3 linked regions of the Homo sapiens genome follow. The protein of the gene in region 1 interacts with the protein of each later gene in a biochemical or structural test. Each region holds a gene or a part of one and is shown on either strand. Other genes may lie near its edges.

The links. The genes of interacting proteins can lie anywhere in the genome.
Region 2: the proteins of YWHAH (region 1) and PDPK1 form a complex in vitro, tested with the Homo sapiens proteins (one study listed by BioGRID).
Region 3: the proteins of YWHAH (region 1) and CAMKK1 form a complex in vitro, tested with the Homo sapiens proteins (one study listed by IntAct).

What each region holds. Positions count from the first base shown.
Region 1 is NC_000022.11:31,954,503-31,958,103, reverse strand, and holds the end of YWHAH (14-3-3 protein eta), read right to left. Parts: intron 1,966-3,601; coding exon 1,312-1,965; 3' UTR 501-1,311; downstream 1-500. UniProt on the Homo sapiens protein: Adapter protein implicated in the regulation of a large spectrum of both general and specialized signaling pathways. Binds to a large number of partners, usually by recognition of a phosphoserine or phosphothreonine motif.
Region 2 is NC_000016.10:2,583,005-2,590,036, reverse strand, and holds part of PDPK1 (3-phosphoinositide-dependent protein kinase 1), read right to left. Parts: intron 6,626-7,032; coding exon 6,452-6,625; intron 3,362-6,451; coding exon 3,144-3,361; intron 1-3,143. UniProt on the Homo sapiens protein: Serine/threonine kinase which acts as a master kinase, phosphorylating and activating a subgroup of the AGC family of protein kinases.
Region 3 is NC_000017.11:3,890,038-3,897,401, reverse strand, and holds the start of CAMKK1 (calcium/calmodulin-dependent protein kinase kinase 1), read left to right. Parts: upstream 1-4,348; 5' UTR 4,349-4,463; intron 4,464-6,658; exon of another isoform or gene 6,659-6,671; coding exon of another isoform or gene 6,672-6,709; intron 6,710-7,364. UniProt on the Homo sapiens protein: Calcium/calmodulin-dependent protein kinase that belongs to a proposed calcium-triggered signaling cascade involved in a number of cellular processes. Phosphorylates CAMK1, CAMK1D, CAMK1G and CAMK4. Involved in regulating cell apoptosis.

The DNA of each region.
Region 1 (3,601 bases):
GTGTTTAAGGGGTAGGTTAGGCTTTTTAACTCAATGAGGTTTGCTTTTCTATTTTAAAGAATACTAAATGCTTAACAATAATCACTAAAGATTTCAGGGGTGCAAGTTGTGCCCCTAGTATCTTATTACATTAAGAAAACTTGAGGACGTGTATAAGCTCCGTATTTACCTTCAGTGTTAAATACACTCTCAAGTTCAACAGAGCCCACAATGTTTCAGAGGTGCTATACTGTGGAAGACTGCATTTTGTTCTGCGAGGCTCATTAAAAAGCACCAGTTATCAGGAAAATTGATCAGAGAGGCTATGTTAGCTGGGTTCACAGAAAACTATTTAAAATCTATGAATCCTATGTGTGTGCTGCAAAATATGTAATGTAATGAGAGGGGAGGAAAACTTGGATAATGTACTACAAATGCTTCCATGTTTGAGAGATTCAAACCACAATTTGTGACTGGTTAAACAGTTCCTCGAGGGGGGAAAAATCAAGACCAAACAGAGATAATATCCCCAAAGCAGCATTTATTTACCCATTGAATTCCAAAACATTTATTTTAGAAGTCTGGCATTTCATAATCACCCATCTTGATTGACATGGGCTGACACACATGGCGCTGTCAGGATACACAAGGACAATAGCCAAAGAGTTACAAAAAATAAATCCATGATTCTTAAACAATTGCAACCAAAAAAAAAAAAAAGTTACAAGTATCAAAACTTTCAGATGCATTGCATTGAAAAGAAGGTTTGTGCACGTCATAATTTAAAGAGGCAAAACCAAGGAGCTACTGAAACCTCACGTTAAACAGTTTATTATAAAGCTGATGGAAAGGAGCAAGTTGTCTCTCTGTATCAGCTTCCCTTAACAGTTTTCCATTAATTGAAGAAAGAGGTGGGAGGGGTGAATTCATTTTTGCATGCACAAGATGTACTGCTTAACGAAACACTATCAGCTTGTTTTAAATGGATCTTTTAAATATCAACTGTAGCCTGGTTGGCTAATTCTTTCTAATCTTCCCCATTACTTTCGCCTAGATTTCCCATAGATCAACAGGCATAGTAAAATGCCTCATCAGAACACACTTCTCCACACAATTCAAAAAGGGAGCTCCTGTGGGCTCAAAGCAACCATCAGTCCAGCAATGCCCATGATTTATCTGAAACTGCTTCCCAAGAGACAGGAGTGCAGATCTGAGTAGCTGTGCTGCCAATACAGATAGGTTTAGCACTAGATATTTAGTGATTGTGGCAAGGAAGAATCGGTGATGATGGGGGTGGTGGGTGAAGGAAGGGCCAGGGGACCTGAAGGATCTTCAGTTGCCTTCTCCTGCTTCTTCATCCTGCTGGTCGCTCGTCCAGAGGGTGAGGTTGTCTCGCAGCAACTGCATGATCAGCGTGGAGTCCTTATAGGAATCCTCGTTTAGTGTGTCCAGCTCAGCTATGGCATCATCGAAGGCTTGTTTGGCTAAGAGGCAGGCTTGCTCAGGTGCATTCTGGATCTCATAGTAGAACACGGAGAAGTTGAGGGCCAGGCCCAGCCGGATGGGATGCGTGGGTTGCATCTGCTCTTTGCTGATTTCAAAGGCTTCCTTGTAGGCAGCTTCAGAAGCTTCGACCACACTGTTTTTCTTCTCCCCAGAAGCGACCTCTGCTAAGTAGCGGTAGTAATCACCCTTCATTTTCAGGTAAAACACCTTGCTCTCATACTGGAAATCATTGCAGTTCTTGATCAGGAACTTGTCAAGCAGAGACAGGACATCATTGCAAACTGTCTCCAGCTCCTTCTCAATCTTCTCCCGGTAAGCTTTAACTTTCTCCAATTTCTTTTCGTTTCCATCAGCCATGGTTTTCTGCTCAATGCTGCTAATGACCCTCCAGGAAGATCGCCTGGCACCAACCACATTCTTGTAGGCCACAGAGAGGAGATTTCGATCTTCATTGGAGAGAGGTTCATTCAGCTCTGTCACCTGCAAAACCCCAAAAAGATAAACATTGAAAGCAAAATCTGAAAATCTTGGTAAGAAGCCTTCCCTTCAACATAATCAACAATCCTTCTCAAGAACGGAATTACGAACAGGTCAGTCACTCTGGAGAATAAAAACCACCCATGGATAAAACCAATATAGACATGAACCCTATGTGAAGAAAGACTATAGTCTAACAGAAGAGATAAATACTTGGCACCCAAAACAGAAAATCATAGGGGCTTGAGAAATTCATAATTCGGGTCTGATAAGATGTTGCTTTCACCTTGGTAGAGGAATGGGACTAAGGATAATTATGAAAAGGTTGTACAGCAGCAGTACATAATGGTGAAGAAGAAAACCTCGAGCTTCAGCCATTCTGCAAAAGATACTCTGAACAGGCCGGGCGCGATGGCTTATGCCTGTAATCCCAGCACTTCAGGAGGCCAAGGGCGGGCAGATCATGAGGTCAAGAGATCGAGACCATTCTGGCCAACATGGTGAAACCCCATCTCTACTAAAAATACAAAAATTAGCTGGGCGTGGTGGCACGCGCTTGTAGTCCCAGCTACTTGGGAGGCTGAGGCAAGAGAAACTCTTGAACCCGGAGGTTGCAGTGAGCCCAGATCGTGCCACTGCACTCCAGCCTAGCTAGCGACAGAGCAAGCCTCCGTCTCAAAAGAAAAAAAAAAAAAAAAAAAAGATACTCTGAACAGTAAGATCGTACGGTCCCTTTGTCAAATGTTCAAAGACAACAGACTGGAAGTGTTCCAGACTCTGCTTCCAGCTTTATACTCTGGAAAGAACCAACCACTCCTCAAATACACATTAACAGATGGTGGGGCTTCACAGATCAGATGGAACATCACACAGATCCAGTGGCCAGAGCTTCGCCCTGTGTGGCTACACATGGAACCCTAACTGATACTCCCAGCCCTCTCCCAAACCAAAATGAAGAACAATTCATAAGTGACATGAAAGTACCCCCAGCTCCTAGTGAAAGGAAGCACAGCTACTCAGCAGGAAGTTGTACTCTGACCTACCTCACAGGAAACTCTGGTCATCAAGGATGGAAGCATCAATTATTTTAAGTGGAAGAGTTAAATTTCACAAGCTTTAACTTCCCTTAGTTCTCCATGATGCCAACTACAAGTGAACTAGCTATGCAGTTAGTAGGAAGAGCATTATTAGACTTTGCAGTGGTTGAACTGTATCCCCCGCCAAAAGATACGCTGAAGTTCTGACCCTAGGTTCCTGTGAATGTGAGCTTATTTGGAAATAGGGTCTTTGCAGATGTAATTAGTTAAGATGAAGTCATACTGGACATTAGGGTGTGCCCTAAGTGCAATTACAGGTGTCCTTATAAGGATAGTGAGATTTTGACACACACACAGGAAGAATGCCATGTGACAGTGGAGGCAAAGACTGGAGTGACGCATCTACAAGCCAAGGAACACCAAGGGTTGCCAGAAGCCACCAGAAGCTGGGAGAGTGCCTAGGAAGGATTCTTCCCTAGAGCCTTCAGAGGGAGCGTGGCCTGCCTACACCTCACTTTCAAACTTCTAGCGTCCAGAACTATGAGAGAATACATTTATTATTTTAAACTATCCAGTTTGTCGTACTAGGTTCAGCACCCCCT
Region 2 (7,032 bases), on another chromosome or scaffold:
CTCAGCAGCAGACATGTCAACTCCCTCTTCGTGCCTGCAGTCGTATCTTGAATCCAGCAAGTTTCGACTGCATTGTGGACTGTGGCAGCACAGGATGACCAAGCCTGAGGCTGTGCTGCAGCCGGAGGCTTTGTCTCTCAGCTACCGTGTGGCCTCTCCAGCCTCTACAATGCAGCTTCTAAGAGCTTCAGTGACTCTTTAATTTATTGTCTGAAAAGCTGTTACAAACAACATTGGATTTTAAAGAGCTCATCACACATATTTTTGAAATGTTCCTTTTAAGTGTAAACTATTCCATGTAAATTTAAAAATTCCTTTTACCTTTTTTTTTTTTTTTTTTCCAATTTTGAGACAGGGTCTCACTCTGTCACCCAGGCTGGGGGGCAGTGGCAAGCTCTCTGCTCACTGCAGCTTCAACTTCCAAGGCTCAGGTAATCCTCCTACCTCAACCTCCCCAAGCAGCTAGGACTACAGGTGTGCAGCACCATGCCTGGTTGATTTTTGTATTTTTTGTAGAGACAGGGTTTCAGTTTCTTGCCCAGGCTGCTCTCGAATTCCTGGCTCAAGTGATCCACCCACCTTGGCCTCCAAAGTGCTGGGATTACAGGTGTGATCCTGAACTTAACTTACCGTATTCTCATGTAGGCACAAGGAAAACTTCAGGATTTCAAAATAATGATTCAGTGGATGATAAAATTACAGAGGCTATAGCAGGTATAAATGAAGAGATAGTAAGAGCTCAGTAGAAATATTGAATATTAATCTCAAAAAATGCATACATTGGCTGGCGCGGTGGCTCACACCTGAAATCCCAGCACTTTGAGAAGCCGAGGTGGGCAGATCACTCGAGGTCAGGAGTTCGAAACCAGACTGGCCAACATGGTGAAACCCCTTCTCTACTAAAAATACAAAAATTAGCTGGACGTGGTGGCATGTGCCTGTAATCCCAGCTACTCAGGAGGCTGAGACAGGAGAATCACTTTAACCCAGGAGGCGGAGGTTGTGTGAGCAGAGATCACGCCACTGCACTCCAGCCTGGGCGACAGAGCAAGACTCTCTCTCATTTAAAAAACAAAACATATTGATACCAAAAACCTATGACCTTAGAAAAGACCAAAAGCACGCAGATTCCATTCTACAGCATGTGACCACTGAAAAACTCACCATACACGCACAGAGAATGACAGCAAAAAGGCAAATAACATCTTAGTATTACAAAAAAAACTGCCCTGACCTCGGGGATTTGGTGGCCACACACTGAGAATGCAAACCACTACTGTAAAGAGCAGGTGCTGGACAGACCTCCCAGCAGCCAGACAGATCCTGCAAGATCTCAGGAGTCATCAGCTTCCCAAAAGGACCTAAAATCTGAAGGAAGTGGGAAGGGGAAAGAGAAACCTGAAGACAAAGGAAGCAGGCAGGAGAATGTGTATCCTGACTTGCCGCCATCACCAGGCTAAGGTACCCAGACGGACCCCAAGGCCCTCTAAGAACAGCCCCAGGCAGAGGGGCCTCTTCTGGGAGTCACCAAAGGAGCTGAAACACACACACACCTGCAGACAGCACCTCTCAGCTGGGATCTGCAGAGAGAGCGCTCCTGGCCAAGTACTTGGAGTGGCCACAGCAGCCCTTCGTGGGGACCCCAGCACACACGAGCCCGGGAAGCTCCTTGCATAGCCAGGCACACGCCTCCTTGCTGCTTGGAGCTGCGCAGCACAGCACGGCTCAGATTGCTCCCATCAAGAGCCCTCCTCTCCTGCTCAGTACACATTAACATCTCTAGCAATCACACTAGGTGTGATTCAGAGCCCCTAGCTGTAGACTGTTGCTGCCTGCCAGCATCTCTGCACAGGTTTTCTAGAGACAGGTGTGGCGAACCGCATAGAGCCGTGGTCTTCCCCACCTGCCGGGGCGGCCCAGAGCTCAGCTCCTTCCTCTCATTCCTCCCCACAAGTCTCTCAAGTCACATGTGTCCTGTCCCTGCCTAGCCAGGCCCTCAACTCCCCCTCGTCTTGTGCTTCCACTCCAGCATGCCTTCCTGCAAGGCCCTCTCCCCACCCCCTTGGGCTCCTCTCTGCCCACACAAAAGGGAAAAGCAGGTAAAAATATTAGGGGGGAAGCCCGTCTTACCAGATTAAAATGGAAAACATAAAATATAAATAGGGACAGGATGGACTTGGTAAGAATTTGCAGCTTCCATACAAAAACACAGTATCGAGACTGGAGAGAAACTGAAGAATGTTTGCAAAACATACAACAAGGAATAGTCTCCATACACGTGGCTTTTAAAAATCCATGTTAAAAAGAGGCACCAGCCTGGCCAACACAGGGAAAGCCTGTCTCTATCAAAAAATACAAAAATTAACCAGGTGTGGTGGCAGGTGCCTGTAATTCCGGCTACTTGAGAGGTTGAGGCAGGAGAATTGCTTGAACCCAGGAGGCAGAGGTTGCAGTGAGCTGAGATCGCGCCACTGCATTCCAGCCTGGGTGACAGAGCAACACTCTGTCTCAAAAAAAAAGATGCAAAATATACAAGAAAGAATAGTCAAAGGACACAAAGTACCTCAAAAAAGAAACACAAATGGTCATGAACACAGGAGACATCTGCCTCAATAGGAATAAAACAGAAATTCACAAGTTTGTTTTTGGAGCATCAAAACACTCTCAGGCAGGCAAGAGCATTGGGAAAGGCAGATTCCTGGCGCCCCCGCGACAGATCCCCAGCCCTGAAAACACGCACGCCCTCCATCACACACTGCCCCTGGCACTCACCTTAGAAGACATAAATGGACAAGTGGGGAAAGCTATGTGGAAAAGAGGGGCTACAACAGCAAACCTCATAAACTCCCAAGTGGCCAGGTCCAGGCCGCGTCTGTCCATACCACAGTGACTCCATGGCCACAACCAGCAGGTCCAAATGCCCGGCAGAGGAGGGGAGCGCCCGGCGGTCACAACCCACTCAGCCCCTGGGCCGGCTGCCTCCTAAGCACCTGTTTCCAACTGTGCACTTACGATGTGCTCCTTGGCCAAGCGTCCAAGGCTGCTGAGGGAGGCAGTGACAAGGCAAAGGCACCCACCATAAGCCCCCACGTGTTCACGCTGCAATTCTGCAAAAAGCATTGCTTATGTCCATAAGTTCTTACCAAGGGTTTCCGCCAGCCTGCTTCTCCAACAACAACCTCTTCTCATCTTCGGAAAACTGTAAGTCCAGTTCAAAGGAGTTCGAGTCCAGATCGTGAATGTACTGCTCTATGTTGCTGCCTGACCTCTGGGGCAGGCCCGTGTCGGAGGCTGACAGGGAGTGTGAGGAGGAGGACGAAGACACCTGCATGCAGCCAAACTGGCTCAGGAGATTGTCATACTGCAGAGAAGAAGGGAAAGTGAGAACCGCACCTTCACTTGCCTCTAAGGTCCTAAAACCCCAGCCCCTCCCGCACTGCCGCTGTCAGGCCTTGGGAGCTCGCACACAGCAAGGCGCAAGGCGACAGGGTGGGCAGCCCTGATTCTCCTCCATGGGACACCTGGCCACAGAACCGAGGCCTCACTGGATCCTGCCTGGTCGGGCTCCTCTTCCCATGGGAATCAGGGCCAGAGAGGGGCGAAGCCTCAGATTTCCTCTCCAGGAAGAGGGGACCTGGGCCCTTACCCTGCGGGCCCCGTGAATGCCAGTGCTGCCCCCCGGAGGTGGGGGCTGGGATGCCTGCTGGGAAGAGAAGGGGCCCAAGGAGGCCTGGTGGCAGATCCATCACACAGGCTGGCAGACAGGGCCTCCGTGCAAGACCTTGTTGGGCCCCAGGTGTCTTAGGAGTCTGAGTCTGTGGTAGATGCTAAATATTTTGATTTGACTAAACACATTCAATTGTTTAAAAGACATTCCTCTTAATCCCAGCAAAGATAAACTAAACTTACTGTAGATAACGCTGCCTGTTACTCTAGGAAAAAGACAAGCTAGTGTCGACAACGGAAACTCACTCATAAACGTGCCAAGCGGACACAGCCTGTGCACTAACACGCTCCTGGCACTGCCAAGGCCAGAGAGTCCCTGGGCAAGGGAAGCCACCTCCCCGGCTGCAGGCCCCACATCTGAGCTCTGTGGAGGCCAAGGACAAGGGGAAAGAAAAGGTGCCACGAGCAATGGCTAGGATAAGAGTGCGGCATGCCCTTCCACGTCCTCCGTGCCTCCAGACGCAGGCCCTGGCTGCTGCCCCACGCAACCATCCACACATGCAGCGTCCCCCATGTGTTCACACTCCTACAGCTGCACCACAGCCCCGCCTCACAGCCCTAAAGCCTCGCACCCAGCTGGGCTGGAGCAAGGTGCTCGCCAACGGGCATGGTGGAAACGCCCGACGCTGCCGGCCCCTCCACGCCGGCCCCTCCACGCCGACCCCTCCACGGGGTGTGGGCCTGCCCAGCCTGCTTGTCTCCAACACTGCCCAATGGTCACACTGCCCCGGCACTTACAGGACCTCAGGAGAGCAGGAGCCAACGAAGCACCTGCTCTCCTGCCTTGGCCCAAGGGCAGGTACCATGGCCAACCTCCCTGGCTGAAGGGGACGCCCAGTGCCCATTCCCCATGAAGGAGGGGGTGCGGCCCTGCAGGGAGGGAGGAGGTACAGCCCTGAAGTCTCCTTCCATGCTTGACACCGTTTGCCAAGACTCACTCACTGTCCCCGTGTGAGGTCTGGCCTGGGAGCTCCCTGCCTGGACCCACTCCAAGGCTTTCAAACCACACAGCTGTGCAGAGCTAAGGATGGGCCATCTAACAGGCGGCTGCCAACAAATGGAGCCTGGCTTCACAGACGGCAACAGAAGCCACGTATCAAGCAGCCCCAGCTCTCAGTAGGCCCAGGCACAGGGGCCTGCACAGGTATGCGGCAAGTGCAAGCACACACACCCCCACACTCAGAGAAGCTCCCCAGGCATTGAGACTGGAGACAACTGAAGCCTGTGCTGCTCCTTCAGAGCCCAGCTACCTCCCTGGGAGCAATGGAGCACAGAGCCCACGGGAGAACGGCCACCAGCCAGTCGCGAGCAAAACCTCTGCAGCAACAGCAGGCCCAGCAGGGAGAGCACTGCAGCCCCGTGGCACCTGCCAGCCGTAACCAAACACCACGCAGGAGCAGCTGAGTGGCACACAGGGTGGGGGCAAGGGCCTCGAGGCTCCCAGGCCTCTGCATACATGAAAGCTGCAGGTGGCCACATCAAGCGGCACAGACTCCGCTCCCCAAGCCTGGCTCCCTTAGAGTTTGGGCTCAAAGGATGTCGGGAGGATGAGGGGCGTTACACAGCAGGTAGGGGCGTTGGGAAACTTTGACACTAGCAGAAATTTAGCTGTGGATGACTTTTAGATAAAATCTAGAATTCCCAGCTGGGTGCAGTAACTCATGCCTAAAACCCCAGCAGTTTGGGAGGCCGAGGCGGGTAGATCACTTGAGGTCAGGAGTTCCACACCAGCCTGGCCAACACGGCGAAACCCTGTCTCTACTAAAAATACAAAAATTAGCCGGGCATGGTGGTGCACACCTGCAGTTCCCGCTAGTCGGGAGGGCGAGACAGGAGAATCGCTTGAACCCACAGCGGCAGAGGTTGCAGTGAGCCGAGATCGCGCCACTACACTCCAGCCTGAGTGACACACCAAGACCCTGTCTCAAAACAAACAAAATCTGGACTTCCTCAGTCATGGAAAGTGGAACTCCGTACACGGTGCCAGTTAGAATAAGCCATGGCGACAGAAGTCAAACCAGAAAAATGGATCTCATGATAACAGCACTTAAGTACGAGGGGGTCACGGGGGAGGTGGCAAGAGGAACTCAGAGGAAACAAGGCTGAAGTGGGCGACATGCCTGCCTCTCACAACACCCTCGGTCCCTTGGGCACATGGTCCACGCTCTCTACGAGAAGCTTAAAGAGCCAAGCGTGCTGAAGACCCCATGGCTGTGGTCAAGCTGGGAGACCAGCAGCCTCAGAGCCTACTCAGCACTGAAGAAGGTACCAGTGTCCCCACCAACGCCACGTCCCAAAAGTTCAAGCACACAACACTCGGGGGTTTCTGTGGAAAGACAGGCAGTGTTCTGGAGCATCTTGGCCGCACAGTTGTACAAGCACCAAGCCAAGCGCAGATGCGACAGGCCGGGCAGGAGGCCCCGTACGTGGGACCCCGGGGCCAGTGCCGGGGGTGCTCGGCGTCCGGTTCTAGCGGCACCCTGTGGGTGGAAACTCACTAGCCTGTCCACGGCCACGGAAATGAGGAGAAAATGACCCACCCAGCACCTCACCCGCCACTGCCTCACGGCAGCAAAGACTACAACCACCAGCAGGCCTGCCGCAGTGGCACAGACACCCTCCCCTTTCGGCTACAAATCACACGTGGGTCTGGCGCACGGGCATGAAGCCCAGTGCACGGAGGACCCAGTGCCACCTGCCTCGCCCGCCATCCCGGCCAGCTTACATTGCCATAGCAGTCCTCGTCGTCTTCCGACATAGCCGGCAGGTAAGCGGTGAGCTTCGGAGGCGTCTGCTGGTGCAGGTTCTCCCACGTGACGGACTCGAAGAACGGGTGTGCTTTAAGAGGTCCGTATCCTTCCATTTCCTCACAGCCTAACCGCTTTGTGGCATCTAAAACCTTAAGTAACAATCAAGACAAGTCACTGCCAGGGTGAAAACGTGATTCTGACCAAAGAAACCCAAACCTGGTAGCCGGGCACGGTGGCTCATGCCTGTCATCCCAGCACTTTGGGAGGCTGAGGCGGGCAGATCACCTGAGGTCAGGAGTTCGAAACCATCCCGGCCAACATGGTGACAACCCGTCTCTACTAAAAATATAAAAATCAGCTGCGCGTGGTGGTGCACGCCTATAATCCCAGCTACTCGGGAGGCTGAGGGAGGAGAATCGCTTGAACCCGGGAGGCAGAATTTGCGGTGAGCCACGATCGCACCATGGCACTCCAGCCTGTGCGACGAGAGCAAAACTCCATCTCCAAAAAAAAAAAAAAATATATATTTATCTCATCTCATCATAAGTCCCTTTCC
Region 3 (7,364 bases), on another chromosome or scaffold:
CACAAAATTCAATTCCTCGGCTGAACTAGCCACATTTCAACTGCTCAGTAGATACGTGTGGTTAGTGGCTGCCATACTGGACAGCTCGGGGCATTTTCACTGTCAAAGAAAGTTCTATTAGACAGCCCTGCTTGAGCCCTGTTTCTTCCTGGCCTTCGGTTTCCCTGGGGAACTTATCGACAATGCAAGCTCCTGGGCCCACCCCCAGACCTCCTGAACCAAAAGCTCCAGGGCTGGCCGTATGATCTGTGTGGATGGCAAACTCCCCAGGCCATTCTGGGACCTAAGTTTAAGAAGTGCCGTCCTCGAACTTTCTGACTCTAAGCTCCTGAGCGGGAGTCAGACTTAGCCCTGAGCCTGCACTTCCTGTTCAGGTGCAGACACTGAACAGGGTCTCAAACACCTTCAGCATGTGTGTTGTGTGCTCACGTGCCACACAGTGTCTCATGCACACAACCCAGTGTACACACCACCTACGTGCACACAGCATCCTTCCACACTGTGTATGTGAACAGCTTGGGCCCTGCAAACACAACCATCTACACACATCTACACCCCCAAGCACACACACATGGTCCGTGCCATGTCACCTCCATAGGGAAAGGCTTCTCTCCAAGTGTGCCAGGCCAGGACAGCCCTCCCAGCCATGAATCCTTACTCAGCTACCTCGGGTTGGGGTGGGAGCCCCAGCCAAATCCTGGGCTCCCTGCCTGTGGCTCAGCCCCAGCTCCCAAGGCCTGCCTGGCTCTGTCTGAACAGAAGGTCTGGGGGAAGCGACGGGTGGAGTACAATAAAGGGAATGAGGACAAACCTCTGCCGTCCGTGCTCTCTTTCCAGACCTCTCTGAAACACAGTGTGCTCGTCTGTGAAATGTGGGGCTGAGCTGGGCAATCTCTGAGATCCCTCTGGATCTGCCGGTGGGGACCAGTGAGCCGACTCATACGCCCTGAGCCCAGCAGGGTCAGTGCTGGGTGGAGAGGTCAGCTCACCTCTGTCCACGGGTTGCCATCTTGGCACAGCCCTGAACATTGGCGCTCTTCCCAACCCTCCATGGCTGGGAGAGGCCTGGCAGTGGCACAAGTAGAGAACCCCAGGAGTGGCCTCGTGAAACAGTGGGGAGGAAGGGGCTGGCTGTGCCAGGAGGGAGATCTGGCGGAATCCCAAAGAGGGGAGGAGGGACTTGACTGAGGCTGTGTGGAGGGCCCTGCTGTGGGCATGACCTCAGGCCTGGATTTACAGCCAGGTAGGATCTCTGGGCAGCATCCCCCACCCAGTCACCATGCTCTGTCTAGACCAGTGCCGTCCCATAGAACCTTCTGGAATGATGGAAATATTCTCTATCTATGCTGTCCAATAGGGTACCCAGAAGCCACAGGTGGCCTCGGTGGAAATATGCAGCCAAGGAAATGAAATTCGTATTTTATTTACTTTTAATTAATTAATCAATATTTTTTTTTTGAGACGGAATTTTGCTCTGTCGCCCAGGCTGGAGTGCAGTGGCACGATCTCGGCTCACTGCAGCCTCCAGCCCCTGAGCTCAAGCAATTCTCCTGCCTCAGCCTCCCAAGTAGCTAGGATTACAGGTGCCCACCACCACGCCTTGCTAATTTTTTTTTGTATTTTTAGTAGAGATGGGGTTTCACCATGTTGGTTGGCCAGGCTGGTCTCAAACTCCTGACCTCAGGTGATCCGCCTGCCTCGGCCTTCCAAAGTGCTGGGATTACAGGCGGGAGCCACCATGACTGCCCAATTTACTTTTAATTAATTTAAATAGTTACATGTGACTAGTGGCTACCAGACTGGACAACACAGGCCAGCCCCTGCCATCTCCCTCAGGGCCTTGGCCTTCTGCCCTCTTCCCCAACCAAGACCTATCATTTAGATTTTATAAGACTGGAACTTCCTCTTCTGCCCCCCCTTCTTTCTCCAGACACACCTGCTTTTGCACTTTCTGCCCCCTTCCCTTCCAAGTGAGCAGAAAAGGGTCCCTCCTCTGTATTCAGCCTCACCACCCAGCCCAGAGGCTGCCCAGCAGAAGCCACCTCCATTCTCCTACCCCTACATCTGTCCCCCTCTTCTGCCTCCTCCTGGCCCAGGTTCCCCAGCAGCTCTGCCCCTCTCCCCTCACTGCAACCCTTCCAGAAAGACCAGTCCACACTTCCCTCTGCAATTGGCCTCCACCCCAACCACTTCTCCTAGGTGCCCTTGCCAAGGTCACTGGCAGTGTCCTGGTTGCCAAGTCTTAAGCAGACACTTGGGCCCCATATCCTGCTTGGCCTGACAGCTTCTCACATTGTTGTCCAAGCCTTCCTTGTCGAAAGATTTCCTTCCAGCAGCTCCTAGGACACACCCTTTCCTGACTTCCCAGCCTGTCTGGCGTGCAAGGAAAAGACAGGTTTCAATTGCAGCTCTGCCACAGTTCACTGTGTGTCCTTGGGGGAAGTGGCTTAACTCTCCAAGCCTCCTCTGTGAGTCAAGGATAATAACAACTTCTTTTTTTTTTTTTTTTTAAATAGAGACAGAGTTTCACTATGTGGACCAGGCTGTTCTCAAACTCCTGGGCTCAAATGATACGCTCCACCTCAGCCTTCCAAAGGGCTGGGATTACCGGCATGAGCTACTGCACCCGGACAATAATAGCTTTTAGTAGGGTTGAGGAAAGACCTGTAAACAGCACCTGGCATACAGTCGAGCTCTGCCCCTCAATCTATCCACCCTCTCAATGGTGGAGTCCACTAGTTGTTCCGGATATCTGTTCTCCCGGTAGCAATTCAGTCCTTGGTTCTTGGTTGGGCATGTGGCTGCCCAGAATGGAAGCTGCATTTCCCAGCTTTCTCTTGCAGCTGGGTCTGGTCATGTTAAGTAAGCTCAAGCGGTGTATGTGAAAGTGCCACGTGGCAACTTCTGGGAACTTTCCTGAAAAGAGAGCTGGTGCAGACCCTCTGCCCTCTTCTTCATCCTTTTCTCCACTCCACTGCCTGGAATGCGTTATGTGATTGCTGGAGCTCTAGCTGGTATCCTGAACCATGAGGTCAAAAGCCACACTCAAGTTGCTGGAATTATTCATTCAACAACATCCACTGAGCACCTGTGCCATGCGACAGGCTGTGTGCTGGACGAATCAGGCACAGTGCTTGCCATCCAGGAGCTCCCAGTCCCAATGAGGAACCAGCAGGTAAACAGATGCCAGGTACAAGGAAGTACCTGGGTGGGGCCACTAACCCATGCTGGAAGTGGGGAGGTCATGGAGAAGGTTTCCAGGCAGAAGTAGGATTGAATTGAACCCTGAAAGACGAGTAGGCGTTAAACAGGCAGGTGGCTGGGAGTAAGGCTATACAGGGCTTGATTAGACCTATTCTCACGGTGAGCCATAGAAAATGCCTCTCGGTGGACTTGTGTTCCTGAAAACTTGCTCTGGGTGCCAGGGAGAGAAAGGCTAGTAGGAGGTGAGACTGGATGGGGCTGGAGGCCAGGGAGGAGGCTGCTGCAGCAATCAGGGACAAGATGGTGGTAGCCTGAGCTAAGGGAGGGGAAGTGGGGTGGAGAGGAGTGGGCCGATTCCAGGGATAGTTAAGAGGCAGTATGGCAGGGCCTGGAGATGGACTGGTTGGAGCAGGAAACAGGGAGGCAGCAGGTGACTCCCAGGCTCCTGGCTCCACTTCGAGACAGGGACGCAGGAGGTTAGATTTGGGGGAAGGATATGGGGCAAGTGGTGGTGCCAGAGGATTCACACGCGGAGGCGTTAGGGGAAGAGGTGGCGGCAGAGTCCCCAGGAACAGCCACAGCGAAGGTCACCTCACTGTCCTGCTGAGTTCCCTCTACTCCCTCGGCCCTCGCTAGGCCATTCCTGTCGCCGGCTCACCGAGCAAGCACTTCACTCTGTGCTAAGCCACCTCTCGGCCTCTCTGCCCCCGCCCCGCAGAAGCTACACTCCTGGGCCTGCCATTCAAGGCCTTCCTCCCCGGGCCTCGCCCCTCCCTCGCACGCACCGCGCCTCGCCCGGGAGGGAGGGGCGCTCTGGCTCCTGCAGGCCGGGATGGGGGCGCAAAGGGTTTGGCGGGGAAGCACGGTCCCCTGCAGGCCCAGGAGAAGGGCCCACGCCGCGGCCGGGAGGGACTTCGGGGACCCCAGGACGCCGGGGGCGTGGCGAGGTCGGCCCCGCCGCAGGGGAGGGAGGGCCCCTACCGCGCCGCCCACCGCGGTCCCTTAGTCCAGGAGGGGGCGGGAGTCCCGGGCTCCGATTGGGCGGCGCTGGCGGGGCCGTTCGCTCCGACCAATGAGCGCCGGCCGGGCGCGGCGGTGGGCGGGGCAGCGAGCGCTGCCCGGAGCCGCGGCGCCCGCGGGCTGAGCTCGGCGATCTGGGCCCCAGCGAGGCGGTGGGGCGGGGCGGGGCGGGGCGGGGCGCGCAGCAGGAGCGAGTGGGGCCGCCCGCCGGGCCGCGGACACTGTCGCCCGGCGCCCAGGTAGGGATCGGCGGGGCGGGGACGCGGGCGAGGAGCAGGAGGACGAACGCCTTAACACCTGCCCCGAGCCTGCAAGGGAGAGGCGGGGGGGGTCTGCCAGGCCGCGTCTACGAGGGAGCTGGGATCTGGTCAGGGCGGGGATCCTTCCCCTTCTGTCTGCGGGGCCGGGTCTGCGGGGTGCCTCGCGGAGTCTGCTCGGGTCTGCGCCGGCCGCCGGGACCGCATCGCCGCGGGTGCCCCGCCGTCTGCGTTCTTCCCCGCTTCTGTCTGCGGACCGCATCCATCCCCGGTGCACTGTCCCCCGCGCCCGGCTCCTGGTGGAGGCCACGTCTGTGCGGAGTGGGCCCGGCCCGGGGCACCCACGTGCGGTTCTCCGCGGAGCGCTCCTCCCACGGCCCGCCGGAGCGTCTTCCTGCAGGAGCCGGGGGCGGGGTGGGAGATGAATGGGGCGGCGGCGGCGCGCGGCTCAGGCTGCGCAGGGTCCTGCCTTGGCTGGGGCGAGAGGGGGCGGCAGAGGCGGGCGCTGCGGCTTCGGGGCCCGGGAGGCGCAGGGCTGGTGGCTGGGGGGGTGTCCACGTGCGCAGGGACCTGCGTGTGCTGTTTGGAGGCGGGTGTGCGTGTGTCACGTGGACGCGGGAGTGTGCCTGTGTCTGCGTGGGGGGTGCAGGACAGGATGGAGTGGTGTGTGAGGGCGGGTCACGCGGACACGGGCGTGTGCCTGTCAGGGGAGGGGGTGTGCTCAAGTCTTGGCGTTGCAGGGCTGTGCAGAGAAGGCTGTGTCACAGGCCACAGGACCGGGCCTTGGTGGTGTCCGCAGGGCGGGCACAGGAGTGTGGGAGGGGCACACAGCCTGTGCGCGCTGGAGGATCCCAGGGAAGTGGCGCTGGCCTCCCCAAGCCCTGCCCTCTTTCCTCCAGTACATACAAATTGACCCCCCACTGCGTCCCAGGCGCACACACTCTGGGGACCCTTCGCCTCTTCCTCGGTCTCCCACCGTCAGTCCTCACAGCAGCCATGGGAGTCGTTTTAAACCTCACCTAACCGAGGCACTCCCCTGCTCACAACCTCCCCCTGGCTTTGGGGGCCTCCTGGGCTCTGTCCACCAAGCTCTCCCCACCCCCAAACCAAGCCCGGAGTCCCAGCCAGGAAATGACTCTCCTATATGCACAGTGCAAACTTCCATCCTCGCCTCATCCTGAAATCCTGCTCAGTGCTCAGAAGAGAGCTCAGGTGCCACCTCCTCTAGGAAGCCATCCCTGAGGCCAGCACAATGAGTGAGGGGGCTTTCTCTCCAGATGTAACTCCTCTTGCTATCAGGTGCCTCTTATGTGGGGAAGACTCCACTCCAGCCACGTCAGCCTCCCTGCTGTTCTTCATACTGAGCAAGCACTGTCCCCTCATGGCGTTTGCACCTGCTGGTCCCTGCACCTGAAATGCTCTTCCCCAGATAACTACACTGCCTACTGCCCCTTCCTTCCTTCAGGTGTCTGCTCCAGTCCTGCTCCCAAAAGGCCTTCCTCAACTACACTGTATCAGCAGCATCTCCCAGCCCCTTTCTCTTGATCCTTCTTACTCGGCTGTATTTTTCTTCCTATATGTACCACTTGACATATCATATCTGAATCACTGGCTTTCTTGTTTGTTGCTTCTTGCCCCCACGAGAAATTAAACTGTATGAGAGCAGAGACTTGGTCTTTTTGGTTCACTGCTGTATCTCCCCACACAGGCTTGCACAGAGTCTGGCAGACAGCAGGTGCTCCGTGACTATTTGTGCTTGCATCCCAGGCGTCCATGTCCCTGGCTGCTCCCTAGCCTGTGACCCCCCCCCCAACCTTGCCCCCAGTCTGAGGCCACTTCTGCTCCTCTATCCATGACATTCCGAGTTCCTGGAAGGCCAGGTCTGGGAGAACTATAACCACATTTGCATGTTGGAAATCCCTCCAGCAGCTGGTGTGGAGGATGGGGTAGGGTGGGGTGGAGGTGTTAGCCTGGAGTCAGGGAAGACCCACATAGTGGGAAACGAAGCAGTGGGTAGAATCTGGACTTCTAAGGGGTTTGACTTGGTGAGCTCACCCAGCAGGTAGTGGGGAGATCAAGGAGGGCTCAGAAGAGGCGATGTCTGAGCTGTCCTCCAGGCAGCAGAGGAGAGGGAGGTGTGTTCCTGGCAGAAGGCACAGCTTGTACTGAGGCCTGGCAGCAGAACAGAGTATGCAATTTGGGAAGCTGTGGTGTGGCTGCAGTGGAGAGTAAGTGTGGGGTTGTGGGGAGCAAGGGTGGGCAACAGGGAAAGGACGAGTGACAAGGAGGGCTCCCGGATTGCTGACCTGGGTCAGGAAAGAATGGGGAGGGTGTGGTACCCGTCTCGCAATGGAGACAGAGGAGGACGAGCAGGTTTGGGGAAGATGCTGAGTTGAATCTGGGGCCTGTTGGATCTGAGCTGCTCGGGAACATGGACGGGGAGGTGGCAGCTAGCTGGAAAGAGTGGGGCTGGAGGCACAGACCTGGTGTGGAGGATGAGGAGGGGCAGAGGATGAGGCCTGGAGACCATCAGCCTCCGTGGGTGGGCCAGGACGATGCGCTGGGGGTAGCTGTGCTGAGTCAGGCAACAGCCCGTATTGGTGCTTGGGGGCTCCCCAGGGATGGTGGGAGCGGGCGTCCTCACAGCAGGAGTCGTCAAGCATGACTTGGCACCAGACGCCTGGGCCTCCCTCAAGGGGACTGAGTCATCCCGGGTGGGGGCGGGAGCTGCGGAGGGCACCCGTTGCCAGGGCCATCCAGATACTCGCCAGGATCATAAACACAGCTCCAGTGAGGCGGCCCAGGCATGGGAGGACCACCTTCTGTGTCTGGCCTGGGTGGCCGCCACCTCTGCGGCTTTCCCTTCTGTTCGGTCCTCTGCTG